2 separate regions of the Homo sapiens genome follow, and region 2 is linked to region 1. Evidence: fine-mapped expression QTL. A gene starts in region 1. The other region holds a variant in brackets. All regions are shown on one strand. Distances are from middle to middle. Region 1 holds the start of ODC1-DT (ODC1 divergent transcript). Region 2 has its middle 19 kb from the start of HPCAL1.

Region 1 (3,009 bases):
TGCTGGCAGAGGGGCGGCGGGCGGCGGCGGCGGCGGCTACAGGAGGGACTGACAAAGCCCCACGGCACGCCGCTCCCTACTTATAGCACCGGCGGGTCGCCATGGAGACGCACCAGCTCAAACCAGCCACGATCGGTTCCGGCCGGGACACCGCCGGGGGAGGGGCGGGGGCCCGGCGGTGGCCAACCCGGGCCCGCGCGGAGCTGGTGGGGCGCCGGCGGGCCGACGTCAGCCGAGCCGAGCACCGCCTGCCCCACGCGTGGCCCCCGCCCCCGGCTTCGCGCCCCGCCCTCCCCGCCCTGCGGCCGCCTCTCCCCGCCCTCCCCGCCCTGCGGCCGCCTCGCCCCGCCCCGCCCTGCGGCGGTCTCGCCCGCCTGGAACTGGTCCGCGCACGCGCACGACGCCGCAGGCCCCGGCCCCGGCCCGCGGCAGCTGAACGGCAGAGCCTGTAGCTGCACAGCTGTGCTTCCACCTGGCGTTCAGTACCTCGTGCCCGAGAGCGGAAAAGGGAAATCGCGAGCGGAGGACCGATGTGCTGGCCACGTGGGCCCCGCCGGGCCGACTCCGGACCCTGCTGCCGCCCATTCCTCCGGTGCAAGGGACCTGGAAGTGATCCCGGTGCCGCTCTGCTCCCACCAGCTAGGGAGCAGAGGCGCGGGAGGGAAGGGGCGTCCCGGGGGTCGCCAGCACGCTGCGGGCAGGGCTGGCAGCCGCCTCCACGCCCCCGCGCTGGAAGCCTCGTCTTTGTAACATCGAGGTATCCTGTAACTAGATGGGTCCTGGCCTGCGGAGGTAGTTTCCCCTGTGAAGCCAGGGACTCAGCCAGGAGCGTGAGGGGACCCGGATCCTGAGTCTCCAAGCCGCCCACTACCCTCTGCTTTACCGGATGGAACTCATCAGTAACTAGGTATCTTTAAGGGCGGCTCCCTGGCGCGCTCTGAGAGTTACGGAAGTCCCAAAATGCTTTGACCGAAAACGTCTAAACAGTGAATACATAAAGCAAAAAGCCGCGTGGGAAATTCGAGTCCCTAGGAGCGCCCAGGGGACGCCTCTGGAGGTGGACTGCCACTCACTCCAGGCCACGCTGGAATGCCCGCACCAGGGAGGCACTGCACTTGAATTGGGGACACTTTTTTTTTTTTTTTTCATTTTTACCTTTCATTCCCTTTTGGACAATCCAGACAGGATATGTCTCTCCCTAGGGTGGGGATTTCGACTCCTTAGGGTGGGAGTACAGCCGATGAAGAGTTAAGGAGAGGAGTGGGTAGATCTAGATCTAGCCTTGGGTGGGTGGGGGCGGGGTTGGAGGAGCTCAGAGCACTGGCCCAGCGCTGCCCCCAACTTGCTGTGTGCTCTTGGACAAGTTATCTCCCTTCTCTGGGCTTCAGATAACCCAAGGATCCTTACATATCTTTATAGCTACAAAGCCCTGTGAGGTTTTGAAAAACTTCCTTGGTACCCAAAACCAGGTCTGAGGCACAGTCAGTGAATACCTGTTTAATGAATGCATGCATAAATGAATGAATGGATGATCCAGCTCTTCCTGGAGCAGGCACGACTTCCACAGAAACAGAGCAAACGCTAGCCGTAAGCAGAAGTGAGTCTTCTTCCTATGTGAAGGGATGTGGGGGTGGTACGCCCCTATCAACTTTATCTTTACATAGTCCTTGAGCGCCCACCGGGCACCGTGTTCCCCGGACTAGAGGGAGGGAGAGGGGGGTTAGCTCCACCCTTAACAAGCTTAATTCTTGATGAGATTAACCATCAAAACCCATCAGAGAACGTTATAGCTCCAGCGCTGAATGAGACATCTTTGATTCTGTGGTGATGCGGACTTTGTGCCTCTCTGTGAGGAATCACTTTGTTCCAATGACGCAATTTTCCTCACACTCCGGAAGTGTCCTGCACTGCCAGAATCGCCCAGCTTCCCGGCACACCTATCAACCAGTCGTTCCCAGCACTGCCCAGTATGCAGCCTCCAGGCAGAGGGCCTGGATGTCTTGGCAGGTAGGGTTCCCCTAGCAGCCTGGGGGTGGTCAGATAGAAACATTAACTGGAACGTAGAGGCCAGTTCTTGGCTCAGGGAGCCAGGAGGGCTCTGACTGTTGCACATACAAGCCACTCACACTGCTATCGCCCACATACCTTCCTCTCCCGCCAGCCCACCCCAAAGCCCAAACTCCTGCCCGCATGCTGGGAAGGTGAGCCCTTGCCTGGAGAGCCCAGCAGGGGAAATAGAAGGAGGGAAGGAGGCCTGCTCCTTCCCCGGAGCTCTGCTCTGCGGCTGCAGGAAGACCCGCAGAGGCCCTGGGCAGCAGAACTGTGGACAGCAAGGCTGGAGTTGTGAAACCCAACCACTCAGCTGGATTCCAGAAGCTCAGGTGGTGGTGACTAAACCTGGCCTTACTTAAAATGCATGACTTTATTGTCTTTCAATGTATTTTCAGTAAACTTCATCCTCTCCATTACTATTTTCTTTTCTTCGGAAACAAGCAACAGATCTTTGTAAAAAAAATACGTGATGCCACGCACTTAGGAATCACCCTCATGTGGAGATGAGATTTCTTTTTTATTTTTTTTTTCTGAGAGTCTCACTCTGTTGCCCAGGCTGGAGTGCAGTGACGTGATCTCGTCTCACTGCAACCTCTGCCTCCCAGGCTCAAGCGATTCTCATGCCTCGGCCTCCTGAGTAGCTGGGATTACGGGCATGTACCACCGTGCCCAGCTAATTTTTGCATTTTTAGTAGAGATGGGGTTTCGCCATGTTGGCTAGGCTGATCTCAAACTCCTGACCTCAAGTGATCCACCCACCTCGGCCTCCCAAAGTGCTGGGATGACAGGCGTGAGCCACTGTGCCTGGCCAGAGATGAGACTTCTATGTGTGGTGCTAAAAGAGTGAATAAAAACATTAGATACTACACTGGACATGCTTCTAAGAGCTTAGTCATCTCACCTAAGTTCTGGGACCAACTCCCATTTTCTTAGGATTCCTTGGGCCCCCTTACCACC
Region 2 (2,755 bases), 170 kb before region 1:
GCAGACCCCTGGGAAGGTCTGACCCCACTACAGGCCTCCAGGTACCTCCAGCCTGTCCAGTCTCCTCCATGGTAACTCCCACCCACCCACACTGCTCTGTGCATCTCTGCCTCTGTTGGGCAAGGCCCCTAGAGCCTTGAGCTGACGTCTCACCCACGTGGCTCAGCACAGGGCCATTAGTACCTGCCGACACCCTTCCCTCACCAGGCTGCAAGAACAGAGCCAGTGTGCATGTTAGCTGCATCCCTGGAGAAACTGGGGCAAAGATGAAAGGCTGACTCTTGATTTGGGAAGTGAAAGCCCAGGGCTGTGAGGGTGAAGCTGGGAAAGAGGCCAGGCAATGCTGTGCACAGCCACCCTGACCACCACTCCCAAAGGAGATGCCATGGCCCCACCTCAGAGAGAAAGGAGGGTGCTGTCTGTTGCAAACCCAACGTCTCCCAGTCCCCCGGGACCCCACAGGGAAGCCAAGTGGCATGTCCTGGACGGTGATGTTTCAGCCAAACTCCAAGGTGAGAGTCAACCTGCATTAGGGGAAACAGCAGGCAGCCGGGAACCTGAGAGGTGCCCGGGATTGTGTTCACAGCGTAAGGGTTCCCAGCATGGGGATGGATGAACGCCGGGCTCAGCTGCCTTCCACAAGACAAAGCAGCCACAGGCAGGGGCCGGCCCTCTGTGACAGTGAGGGATCTGTGTAGAAAGGCCTGGCCACGGCCTCCTTTCTCTCCTCAGGCTCTCAACGAGCACGCCTGGCTGAGGAGCTTCTTAGAGGCCTGGGAATGGGTCTGGAGGAGGAGCCAGCACTAAAGACACAAGGAAAGACAGTTTCACAGTCACCGCTTTGCAGCAAATAGAGCCACAGGCTGCCCCAAGGGCCACCACATAGTCTTTTCCCCCGAACCCCGCCCCACCCCAACCCTGACTCACCCTGACTCACTTCCAGTGGGGCCACCACTGCTGGCCCAGCAGCCCTTCTTTGGCCTGCTGGTGTCTTGGGCATTGCGT[G/A]TGTGTGGGGGGGTGTCCACCTTCTCTCTCCTTTCACCTGCATCAGACCACTACTCGCCTTCTGTATCCTTCCACCCAGGGCCCTCTTCACTTTGCATTCTTTTTCTTTCACATTAGACCCTGAGGGTCAGGTTCCCTTTCTGCAAAGGCCAGGATAGCTTGATTTCTAGAACTTCCTAGGTGTAAGGGGAGATAGTTGCTTGCTGTCCCGGGAAGTGTGCTCAACCCTGGAGTGGGTTGGATCCTTCTTATGCAGCAAAAAAAGTGAAGAGAGTGGCCAGGCTCAGTGGTTCATGACTGGAATCCCAGCCCTTTGGGAGGCCAAGGCAGGAGGATCGCTTGAGCCCAGGAGTTTGAGACCAGCCTGGCCAATATAGTGAGTTTCCATCTCAACAAAAAATCAAAAAATCAGCTGGGTGCAGTGGCACACACCTATAGGGCCAGCTATTCAGGAGACTGAGGTGGGAGGATCCCTTGAGCCCAGGAAGTTGAGGCTGCACTCCAGCCTGGGCTACTAAGTGAGACCCTGTCTCAAAAAAAAAAAAAAAAAGCTTGAAAGAGAAAAAAATTGCAGTTTCCTTATGAAACCAGGCTGCGCGTTGCTTTCCCATCTCACATCACTGAGAGGTTTGTCGTCTGGGCTCTAACAACAGGCCGGGATCCAGAGATGAACAGGGCCACGTGCCTGCTCTCAGCTCTGCTTGGTGGCATCTGAGTGAAGACAAGGGTGGTTTAGCAGAGGGACGTGCTGGCCGCAGGCTGCTTGGGGTCCCTGGTGACTCCCAGTGGCCTCGGTGTGTTGGGGCAGGGTGGGATTGTGCTTCTCTGGCCCAGCCCCATGACCTAGGCTTTAAGGCAAACAGTGGGGCTGCTTCAACACTGTGGGTGGGGGGAACTTGGAGCTATAAGATGCCATCCGAGCCTCCGTTCAGAAAGACCCTGGACTCCCACCCCTCTGGAACTGAGACCTGAGGAAGGGCACCCAATCCAGACCCTCCCTTTCCTGGTGCTCCAGCCCCTCTGCCATCCTGGTGCGGGGAGCTGAGGTCTGTGCATGGGTTTGCTTTGTCAGAGCCTGAGGCAGATGCCAGGGTGAGCACAAAGCCACACTGTGTTCCCTGGGAGGCGCTATGGACCCACACAGCCGGCTGAGCCCCATCTCGGCTCTGAGGGGCTCTGCGCCAGTGGATGCCTCCGTAGGGCCTGAGGTCAGAACTCCCTGCCCACCTGCTGCCTGCATACCTGGCAGACACCCCCTACTCCAGCAGCCTGGGACCCAGATTGTCCAGGACAACTCCAAGTATAAAAACCCCTCCCATGGTCAGACTCAGGCTGGGGGTCCTGATTTGGGGTTTGGAAAATAAAGCTATGGAACACATGCCAGCATGTGCCCCAAGACATCTGCAGGGAACAGGTTGCCTGTCACCTTCATCACTGTCCTGACCCAACTGCACAAACCTTCCTAAGCTTCCATCCTCCTGATCAAAGCACCTCCACACTGAAACTGCTTCATTCATGCCGGTGTTGAGGGGTGTGAATGAGTTCCCCAGAACACCAAGCGAATGAAGCCCATGGCATTAAACTCATCCTGTGAAGCTGGAAACACATTCAGAGGAGTAAGTGATTTGCCTGAGGTCACCCTGCAGAGCAGGGGTTTATAATGGAGGAGGGGTGCAAAGTGCTCCGAGAGCAAGGCCCCTCCTGCAGATATGGAGAAAGGCTTCCTATGGGAGGTTTGACCGGGGGAAGA

The links.
Region 2: its variant is fine-mapped to the expression of ODC1-DT in thyroid (GTEx, PIP above 0.99).

The regions. Positions count from the first base shown.
Region 1 is chr2:10,448,275-10,451,283 of GRCh38, forward strand. ODC1-DT (ODC1 divergent transcript) reads left to right here and starts at 1,454. Exons shown (of 5, transcript NR_110597.1): 1 at 1,454-1,597; 2 at 1,779-2,007. It overlaps ODC1 (ornithine decarboxylase 1), which reads right to left and starts at 53. Exons shown (of 12, transcript NM_002539.3): 1 at 1-53. RefSeq lists a silencer at 1-923.
Region 2 is chr2:10,282,558-10,285,312 of GRCh38, forward strand. No RefSeq gene overlaps it. Among named protein-coding and RNA genes, the nearest start is that of HPCAL1, 19 kb to the right of the region's middle. RefSeq lists enhancers at 252-1,451, 1,510-2,110. The variant G/A (reference allele first, on the strand shown) is at 1,006.